2 separate regions of the Homo sapiens genome follow, and region 2 is linked to region 1. Evidence: fine-mapped expression QTL. A gene starts in region 1. The other region holds a variant in brackets. All regions are shown on one strand. Distances are from middle to middle.

Evidence for each region.
Region 2: its variant is fine-mapped to the expression of ZNF467 in blood mononuclear cells (TOPMed, PIP above 0.99). The same link has a PIP of 0.9 or more in monocytes.

What each region holds. Positions count from the first base shown.
Region 1 is chr7:149,770,934-149,776,295 of GRCh38, forward strand. ZNF467 (zinc finger protein 467) reads right to left here and starts at 2,655. Exons shown (of 5, transcript NM_207336.3): 1 at 2,175-2,655; 2 at 66-141. The coding sequence starts at 99. It also overlaps the pseudogene SSPOP. RefSeq lists silencers at 582-671, 682-1,001, 1,012-1,161, 2,098-2,277.
Region 2 is chr7:149,751,186-149,756,547 of GRCh38, forward strand. No RefSeq gene overlaps it. Among named protein-coding and RNA genes, the nearest start is that of ZNF467, 20 kb to the right of the region's middle. The variant A/G (reference allele first, on the strand shown) is at 2,389.

The sequences.
Region 1 (5,362 bases):
GAGTTGTAGATGCCCCTGAATCCTCCTAAGCTTTTCCCCAAGTCCCTTCATTTCTGCCAGCTCACCCAGGGAGCTGAGGGCCTCCAAGGTCTCTCTCATGGTAACCCAGAGTAGCTCCTCCTGGGGATCAGGCCACAGAACCTATGGAGAAAAGACAGCCTTGTTCAGATTTTTCCCACGCCAGCTTCCACCTGGGCCCTGGCTCTGCCCAACCTCTCCCTATGGGCTCTTCCAGGAGCTCCAAAGGTGACATCCCCAGGTACAGCTGGGGGAAATTTGGGAAACTGGGTTTAGAAAGCCAAGCCAAGAGATCTTTGAAGGTGGCCCAAGAAGGCCTTGAAACGATTTCTGTCAGCTCTGGAAACCAGCCGCGCCACCCCCTCACCTGGCAGGTCTGTCACCGCCAACCCCGGCCCATCAGCACCGCAACTCCACGCCCCAGCGTCCTTGCCTGGGAAAGTGCAGGCAAGATTCGATTCTCTGGGGAGAGGCTTGAGGGTGGGAGCCCAGGGTGGGGAGTGGGAAACTTCATCTCCCAGGTCCTCCAGCTGTCACTGCCCGAGCTGGTGAAATAGGAGCCAGCCCAGGGGCGGGAGTGAGTGTCACTTTAGGGGTACTGCTTGGGGAGGTCCTCGAGAGGATCCTCTTGTAGCTAGAAAATGATCGCCTCTTCCTAAACCCCTACCACAAAACCACCTCTCACCCGTGCCGGGCTGCCCAAGGCCCGGACACCGCCCCTGCTGCCCCTTCCCTGCTCCGCCTTCCGCGGCTCCCCCGCCCCTCCCCCAGCAGACTCCCCTCCCCCATCTCCCCGGCAGCCTTCCCTCTGCCCCGCCCCTCCCGCTCCCTCTGCCTTCCGCCCTCTCTCCCCTGCGAATCGGGCCGGCGCCTCGGCTCCGCCCCCGGCCCCGCCCCTCAGGCTCCGCCCGCCCGAGCCCGGCAGGGCCAACCCCTCGAGGCCCCGTCCGGGTCGGCCCTCCGCTGCCACCGCCTCCCCTGACCCTACGCTCCGGGCCGCCTCGGCGGCAGCGCTCCCCTCCCCCTCTCAGACTCCAGGCTGCCTTTCCCTACCCTCCCGGTTCTCCCCCGCTCCATCTCCCTCCCCGGCTGCACACCCTCTCCCTTCCTTTCCCCCTCCTCTTTTCCTTCCTCGCCAACCCCCGCCCTCCTCCTCTCAGCTCTTTTCCCCAACCCAGTTCTCCTCTCCCCTCCCTCCTCTCCTCCCCCACCCCGGTTTCCCTTCCTTCTCCTTTCCTCGCCTCACCTCGGTTCCCTTCCCCTCCCCCTTTCCAGCCCTCCCCCACGTCTCCCCACCGCCCTCCCCCTCCCCCCTCCCTTCTGCAGCTCTCCTTCCCCTCCGAGGCCCCCGCCTCCCTTCCCCCTCTGTCTCCCCAGCAGGCTCCAGCTTCGCTTCCCTCCCCGTCCCCAGTCCCCAGAACCGCTCTTCCCCTCCCCCCTCCCAGGCTGCTTCCCAGCTCCCGGGTCCTCCGGCCCCCAAGCCTGGGGGTCTAGGGCTGACCCGCTCTCTCGGGACCTTCCCGCGGGCCCTGCCCTCCCCACTCCGTCTCCCCTCCGAACACCCCTCCGCGCCTCTCTTCTCCGCCGCGGCGCCCCCTCCCTATTTCTGCTCCCCTCGGACTTCTCACCCCTCCCAAGTTTTCCTCCCGACGGGACCCTCAGCTCCACCTCCCTGCCCCGCCGCCCTCCCAAGCAGCTCCGATCGCCGACTTCATTCCAGGTCCCGGCCCCCTCCCCAGCTCCGGGGCTCACCTGTCAGCGCCCTCCTCTCCCGCCCCTACCGAGTGGCCCGGTCCCCAGCGCCCGCTTCTTCCTCCCCTTCCCCCTCGGCCCCCTCCCACACTCCCTCTCTCCTCCCCTCGGGGCCCGTCGTCCCCCTTCCCACCTGCCTCCCGCCCGACCCCCTCCCAGCCCCCGCCCTTCCCTCCAGCCCCCCCGGTCTCCTCTACCCCCACAGCCCTCACCCTGCCCGCGCCGGCCTTGCCCTCCCTTCCCCCCAGCCCCCGACCTCCCCGGACCCGCGCCCCTCCCCCACGCCCGCCGTCCGCGCCCCTACCCCCGGGGCTGTCACCTGCGCGGAGCCGGCCGTGACCCAACCGCGGCGCTGAGGGAGACGCGGGCGGGGCCGCCTGCAGAGGAGCCTCCCCGGCCCTTACCTGGCTGGCCGGCCGCTCCGCCCGCGCCGCGGGGACCCAGGCGCCCGGGCCTCCTGCCCCGCCGGCTCTGCTCACAATGGCGCTCGCCGCCTGCAGCTCGGGTGCTGACGGCCTGAAAGACTGACAGACTGACAGCCCCGAAACTTCGCGGGGAGGAGAGGGATAGACGCGCGGGGAGTCGAAGCCGGGAAACGGCGCCTGCAAGGGAGGAGGGACCGAGGGAGCGGGCGGAGAGCCCCGGCGCACCGGGCTGGGGGAGGCAGGGGCAGGGGGTTTCAGGAGTGGGGTCCCAGGAGGGAGCACCGTGGGCTTAGGTGGGCAGGTGATGGTCCTAAGGCTCCGAGCCTGGAGTAGGTGTGGAAGTGGGAGCTCAGGACGGGGGAGGGGAGGGGAGGGGAGGGGAGGGTGATGGGAGAGGGGGTGGAGGAGGGCGAGGAGGCTGGGGAGGACAGGCACTCGGGCTGCGGGGAAGGGTGCCAAGGGAGGGTGCTCGCGGCCGCGGAGGGAGGAGCCGGGGAAAGGTGGAGCGCGAACGGGTGGGGGGGTGGCGGGGAGGAGTTGGGGGAACGAGGAGGGGCCGTGTCGGGGGGGAGCCAGCGAGTCGTGCGCTGCCGTCTCTAAGTCGCCGGTGCCAGCCGGGTGTGCAGCGCCGCGCTCCCGCGGGAGGACGGCCCGGGGGGTCGGTCTGGGAAACTCCGGCCCCGCCCCCATTCTCCACCCGGATTCCACCCCGATCCACCCAGACCCGCAGCCCCTCGCCTGGAGTCCCGAGGACCCGATTCGAAACCAGCCGCGGGAGCCGTGGGGGCAGGCGGGAGAGAGGGCTGGGCCCCTGTGCTTGCGAGAACGGGTCCTTCGAAGTAGAAACTGGGGAGAGGACTTTAAGCCAGGTCCCCTGGGAGAAGGCCGGGCCAGGTCGGGAGCTCCAGGGGGCAAGGCTGGGACGGGGCTGGGCGGAGATTCTGAGGGCGGGGTCCGGGGGAGGGTCTGGGAGGGGGCTGCAGAGAGGGGAGGGCTCTATGGGCGGGAGACGATTGCTGGGGGGCCTGCTGGCCCGGACACCACCTGGAGTTAGATGTGGAGGGCAGCCCTCAGCCCTCAGCCCTCAGCCCCAGCTCCTCAGGGGACTCCACTCGCCCTCCCTGCCCAGGTTACGAGGTTTCTCCTTGGCCTTGTTCCCGCTGCGCCCACTCCTGAAAGCTCCGGAGATGCTGAAGTCTGGACTGTTAGTTCCCGGTCTCCTCTCCATGAACTTTCTCCAAACCCCTGGGTTCCAGCTTCCTCCCTTCTGCCCCTTTACGGGAAAGGGTGACTGCAACTCGGGTCTCTTCCCAATCCCAGTGCTGCCTGATCAGCCCCGGTTTGAATCCAGAGCTGAGTGAGGCTGGGAAGGGGAGGGTGTGAATGGCCCTTGAGCTCCTGCTACCACAGCCCACCACAAGGATGAGTGCCTGGAAGAGCGCCCATCACTCGGGCTCAGCTGTGAAGGCTCCTCTGCCTCCAGGATGAAGGGAGCACCTGGAGTAGCATGTGTCACTGTGCGTGCTGGGGTGTGGCCGAGCACCTGTGCCGGTGTTGTGAGACTTACAGTGAGAGTGTGCATGTGTGTAAAACAGGAAAGGGGGGTGTCTGGGTGTGCGTGTGGCTCTTTCTGAGGACTCCAGAGCAGGAGTTGATCCCAGTCATCCGTGACCCCCTGAGAGACTCACTCTGGGCCCTTTTTTGGCCCTGGGACCAATGGTGAACCCAGGAGAAGGAGAGCCCGGCCCAGCTCTGGTTAACAGCAGCCCCCTTCCTCCCCTAGGTGGAATGACTCTACAGGATACTCGGAGGGATATCAGGTTTAGGAGACCGAGGGGTGTGGAGTCGGAGCCAGGCTGCATTCCAGCCCGGGTGTCCGGGTGTGCTCAGAGCTCTGCTGGGACCAGGGTGGACCCCGGATTCCCCTGTGGAGCCTGTCACTGCCCCTCCCAGCCGGATTCTCGGATTATTTCATCCGGCTTAGCTCTGCCCCAGGGCTGGGGGAGCTGGCTCCCCCGCCCACTCCTTCCAGAGGGTCCTCTCATTCCTCAGCATAGGCTCCCCAGTTCTAGACCCCAGAGACTCTAGGAGACCCTCGAAGAAGGAGACAGGGTGGGCCCAACCAGCCACACATAATCATCCCCAGCAAGAAACTGGACCCTGGAGAAAAGGGTACATGTTGCCCACGCATCTCCACACACTCAGGAACCCCAGCTACCCTAGAAGTGCTCCCACTCACTGCCCCCGACTCCTCAGTTTGGGCAAGAGAGGGGCGGGAGGCAGGGGAGCATCATCCAGGCAGAAGTTCAAGGCTGGAAGACCCCATCAGTCGTTTAGCCCAGGAGCTCTTAACCTTTTCATGGGGTCATGGCCCTCTTGAGAATCTAATAAAAGTATAGAACTGTCTTCAGAAAAATGTGCACATACAATTTCAAAGAATTACTGGAGTCTGAGACCTATTTGTGCATCCCTGGGAAGTCCCTGAAATTTTTACTGGGAAGGAAATTGAGGCCCAGAAATGGAGGGTGGCTTGCCCAGAGCCCCATGTTAATTTGTGGTAGTGCCTGAGAGTGTGAAAATACACACACACACACACACACACACACACACACACACACACACACACAAAGGGAAACAGATGCACTGGAAGGGGACAGGAAGGAGACTGTTTCCAGGGAGAGCTGGCCTCTGAGGGGCTGGTGTGGCAGGTCCAATCCGGTTGTGGGCAGCTGGTGCCCTGGGGCATGAGACTGGAATAAAGCCCCCCACAGCCCCCAGAACTGGCCACTGGGCTGCGGGGAGGCTGCGTGGGGCAGGAGAGAGCACCGCTGGCCTCTCTGCCCTCTCTGCAGCATTGCCTCTCTTGAGCCCAAGCCTCACGTTCCCCAAAGGTGCCCTGGGGGTGAGGGCACCATGCTACTCCCTGCCCTCCTCTTTGGGATGGCGTGGGCCCTGGCTGACGGGTAAGCAGCCCACCCTGGACCCCTCTGACAAGGGTCCTCCTTCTGCCGCATGCCCAGGGACCCTCTGGGGCATCAGACTCCGTGCCCCCCACCCCCGGGATCCTCCCTCCACCCCCGCCACTTCCCATGAGTGTCTCTCCCTACCTTAGCATCCTCCTTACTTCAATAACCACCCCTGGGAGTGGTGTCATAGGACAGGGCTTT
Region 2 (5,362 bases), 20 kb before region 1:
CAGCAAAATGAGACAAGTGTGTGCACGCTGTGCTGCTGCAGCTGCGAAATGAAAAGCTTCTCATTAGCATCCTTTGCACAGGGGTAGGGGTGGGGGATAACTCAGGGACAGCTCTCAGAGTGCAGAGCTGGGGCTTCTGTTCCCAACCCAGGCCCCCGGCAGGCCCCCTAGGTGTGTCATCTGCCTCCAGCCCAGCTAGGCAAGTGTGCTTCCATCTGGGTTGGGGAGAGGGATGGGTGGAAGTCTCCTGTGGGGTAATTGTGAGTCCTGATCTGGTCCCAGAATGTGAGCCCACCTTAGTTGTGGGACCCTGGGACCTCCACCCTCCCCAGCCCGCTGAGCAGGGAGGGGCATGCAGAGCTGGGTGGAGGGGAAGCAGGTTCCTCTGGCCACACAGGCTCTTCCTGTGCCAGGGGCAGCCCAGGCACAAGATGACAAGGAGAACCGGAAACTAGCCAGCAGGGCCTGCCCTGCAAAATCATGGATTTCCTCTTTCCCTCCCTCCCACCCTTCAGGCCCCAGCAGAACCTCTCTCCTCCAGGCCTCCGTTCTGTCATGCAGGATGAGAGCAGAGGTTCTTAAACCAGCTCTGCGGACCATGTGGGCCCACAGAGGGGCTTAAAGAGGGTGTCCACATACCCTCTAAAATTACGTGCAAATCATTGTTTCTATGCACATTACTCTGAAGGGAGCTTTAAACAACTAAATGCTTGGTGGTTTGCTAAAGGTTAGGAACCGACAGCCTAGAAAATTCTCAGGCCTCTCCAACACTGACATTCCTGCTTTCCCCTTTCTGTCTGCTTTCCTGAGTGTGGTTCTCAGCTCTCTTCTTAGTTCAGGTAGCTCTCTTCTCATCTAATACATATACTTTGCAGTAACGGCCAACGAAGGTGGTATATTACAGTGAGGCTTTAAATGGGACATGCAGAGTATGTGAAACATACCAGATATCTAACTCACATAATTGCATTTGAGCAGTAAGTTTAGCTTTAACCATCTCAGCAGCCACATGAAAAAATAGATCGCTGAATTTATTAACTTTGGGATTTGTGTTTGCTGTCACCCTGTCTTAGTTCACAGCTATAACTCTGCAGGGGTGGATTTTAGGCACTCAGATTATCCGGTAGGGGAGGGATTTTGAGATGGGTAGGCCTTGTAAAGGCTCCTCTTCCACCTGTACAATTCAACATACGTGTTGTGAGTGTTCAAATGTGCCAGGTCCTGGAAATACCAAGACAAAAAAACACGACTTCCGCCCTCGAGATGTTCCCAGTGGGCCTGGAGAGATGAGGCTCCTACAAGGGTGTAACCTTTCTAAACCCCGGTTTCCTTACCTGAGAAGTGAGGACAGCAACCCCGTACCAAAGGGGGCTTAGGGGAATTAAGTAGGAGCCTCAGTCACAGGAGGCACTCACACATTTTAGGCACACGCGGACACACCCAACAACTGCAGGCGACATCTGGTAAGGTGGGAAGCAGAGGAACCATGACAGCTTAAAGGAGGAGATTGTTGTGTGCTGGGATCATTGGGGAAGGACACCCCCAGGAGGTGGCCCCCATCTGTGCTCGAAAAATAGGTAGGATTTAAAAGGGAAGTCAGGGCAGTAGGCACTTTGTGATGGGGAAGCCCAGGGAGGCCGGGGCAGGAGGCAGGAAGGACCACACGGCCCGGAGACAGGAACAAGACCGCTTGGTGTAAGGGAGGGTGTGTACCCAGGAGGTTTGGAAAATAAGTTTCAAAAGTTTGTTGGGGCCAACTGTAGAGAGCCTTGAGTTAGAACAGACATGTATTGCACACTGGCTAGGTGGGCACTCTGCTCTGTGCCAGGGAAGCTTGCCACCCCCAGAGGGACACACAGAATAATGTGGCACAATGTGTCAACCGCTAAGGCCTCTGGATATTCAGATGAGCAGAAGTTTCTAAGCTGGGGCGTAATAAGTTATAAGGAAGATCAGCCTGACAGTTGGAGGATAGATGGGGAAGCAGGAGTTGGGGAGAAGTCAGAGGGGGACCTGATAGGAGAAGGTTGCCCACTGGCCTGGGCTTGGGGGGACAGTACTGGGAGGGTCAGGGGCAGCAGGGGCAGCAGGGCAGGCATCTGCAAAGGATGAGCGTGCTATGACGCGAGCTCCATCATTCTGGAGAAAGAGGATCCTGAGGCCTTAGGAGTTCTCCTGGAAGCCCCACAGTGAAATCTCAAGAGAGAAAATCCCAGCGAGGACAGGGACACTGGGCCCACGGGAATCCTGTCTTGCTGGGCCGGAGGGGAGCCCTGGGTCTGGCTCCTGTAGAGCCTGAAATAGAATCCGATTTGCGATGCCCCTAATGATGTTATGTAATGACATTGCATAAGCCCGTTACGTAAATCAAAGTCCTGCTATTGACCA[A/G]GAATGTCCCCTGCCCCAAGGCTGACCTAATCCCACGCCTGAAGGCTCAGTCCTTTGTGGCAGTTGGATAAATCTGTTTCCTAAAGCCTCTGTGAAACCCTCCCGACCTTAAAGTCTCTGTCTTTAGGGTTCCTGGGGCCTCCTTCTCCGTTGCTGCTTCTCCACTGTGGGAGGCCTCAGTGTGACACTCACTCATCCTTCCCCAGGTGAGGGTTCCCAGGGAAGGACAGGATTCCAGTCCTTCCACCAGCGTGGAATTGTGGCCGTGCGCCCTCTTCTGGGGGTCTTGCATACTCCCTCTGACTGTGAAATACAAGACTTGTCTCTGGTTAAAAGACATTTCAAGGATCAGTAAGTGAGTGAAGAAGTTTTCTTCCCTGTGGGGCATGGGTGGCCTCCCCAGGACCCTGGAGTTAACAACTACGAGCAGGTTCTTGAGTCCCAGGAGCAGAAAGAATCTTTCACTACTGGAAACCAGCATGTCCCGTGAACGCACTCACCAACCTGTCTGCCTTCAGTCGGCCCATCTGTCTCCCTGAACATACTAGCAGAAGCCCTCCCACCCTCAACCCACCTCGCCAACCCCCACCCCGGCTCCCCTTCAAGCCCTCTCCCCAGCATAGGCAACATCTTCCTCGGGAGGCTGTCTCCTTCCTTCATCTATGTCTCTCTACAAGTAAATCCTGGTGTGCACACCACCACCCCCGACACATAAACACAGTTTACAGAAACACCAAACAAAACAGTCATGTTTGATGGAAAAAGGCTGAGTTCCCAGTTGCTCTTAGTGTCTCCTAAAAGTCAACTGTTTACTGTCCTATCAAAGCTATTTTACTGTTATAGGACTAGGAAAAATTTAAATTTAAAAATCACACGAAGAATAAAGTAACACAAAGCAAAACTGTTTATGTTTTATCTTTTTTTTTTTTTTTTTCAGACAAGTTCTTGCTCTGTCACCCGGGCTGGAGTGCAGTGATACAATCTTGGTTTACTGTAACCTCAAACTCCTGGGCTCAAGGCATCCTCCTACCTCAGCCTCTTGAGTCACTAGGACTACAGGCCTGCTACCATGCCTGGGTAATTAAATTTTTTTTTTTTTTTAGAAATGGAGTCTCCCTATGTTGCCCAGGCTGGTCTTGAACTCTTGGCCTCAAGTGATTCTCCCACCTCGGCCTCCCAAAGTGCTGGGATTACAGGTGTCAGCCACAGTGCCCAGCCTCTTTTGGCTTTTTTGAATGATATGACACATCTCCAAAACATAGCACAGGGTGGATCCAAGAGCTCCTGGGGTAAGAGCTGCCTGGACCCACAGGTCCACTCTCATGGGCTCTGATTAGAGCTGCACTGCCCCATTCCCTCCCAATACCAGGAGCCCTCATTTCAGCCTCAGCTCCCCCAACTTTGACACAGTATTTTACTCAAGGTCTCTGTTATGAATTGAATTGCGCCCCCCAAGAAGTCCAAAAAGTTGTGTTGAAGTCCTAGCCCTGGCCCCAACCTATGAATATAGCCTCTTGAAAATAGGATCTTTGCGGATAAAATCAGGATGAGGTCATTAGGGTGGGCCGTTCTCCAATATGACTGTTGTCCTTATAGGAAGAGGAGGGACACAGACATGCCCAGAGTGGAGGAGACCCAGGAAGAAGGTGATGGGAGGATGGAGGTAGAGATTGAAGTGCTGTGTCTATAAGTCAAGAAATGGCCAGGAGAAAGGCCTGGAACAGAGTCTTCCCTTGAGCCTTCAGAGGGAGTGTAACACCTGATTTCACACTCATAGCCTCCAGACCGTGAAGGAATAGATTTCTGCTGTTTTGAAGCTATGCAGTGTGTAGCACTTTGTAAAGGAGGCCTCAGGAAGCGAACACAGCAGCTTCGGTGAACGCAGTGCCACATGGCACAGCTCCCCCCTTGCCTGTGTGCAGGGGGCAGCAATGTCAGCAGGACAATTTTCAGGCAATTCACAGAGACTGTGGCTTGGAGTTGGGCCCAGGCTGGCCAGTGTCTTGGGAGTCTGTGAGGCCTCGACCCTCTTCCCAGGTTGCTATCTGCCTGCCCCATAAACACATCCTGAGACTTTGCTACCTTCCTTTCCCCCTTCCTTCCTGGTGTTCTCTCAGAGCTGTACCTGTCTGCACTGCCTGGTCTCCTTGGTACATCACCTGCTTGGACATCAGCCACCCTTTCTCAGTGCCTCGATTCAGGATGCCATAATATATGTTTTCTATGAAAATGAAGCTTCATTCTGCCTGCCGATTCCTACCTATTTTAAATCACAGCTGACATCCACGCCTCAACAAAGATTCCCATAGCTGTAGCTCCATGATTCATGATCGCGTCTAGAAAGGGAACATTTTGCAACAGATAGCCAGGCCCAACTTCCATGGCTTCATGCTTCTTCCCAGGTCTCTGCCACCCAGCACTGTCCTCTCCCAGGAGACAGATGCATGCTAATGCCACGTGTGTGTGTAACAGGTTTCCCGGCTGGCTGGAAGCCTGGTCCCCAGTTGCTTACAGTCTTGGCAAGTTAATTCACCTCCTCAGAGATGCCCTCCTGATCTCCAGGTGTGAGTCCCTGCTCCTTGCTCCTTGTTCCATGATCCTTTGCACATACTTCTCTTACCAACCCACTAGGTCCAACCGCGAGTCTGTGAGTGCCCTGAAGACCTTGAATGTGTGTCCTGAAGACCCCTCTCTGCAAGGGGACAGTGGAGCTTGGTGTTTAAAAGTACAGGTCCTAGGAAAATGCAAACCAAAATCACTCTGAGATGTCGCCTCAAAGCCATGAGGATGGCCAGTATCAAAAACCAGAAAATAACAATTGTTGGCAAGGATGTGGCGTCATTGGAAGCCTCATGCATGGCTGGTGAGAATGTGAAATGGTGCAGATGCTGTGGAAGACAGTATGTCAGCTCCTCAAGAAATTAAAAATAGAATGACCATATGATCCAGCAATTCCATATCTGGGTATATACCC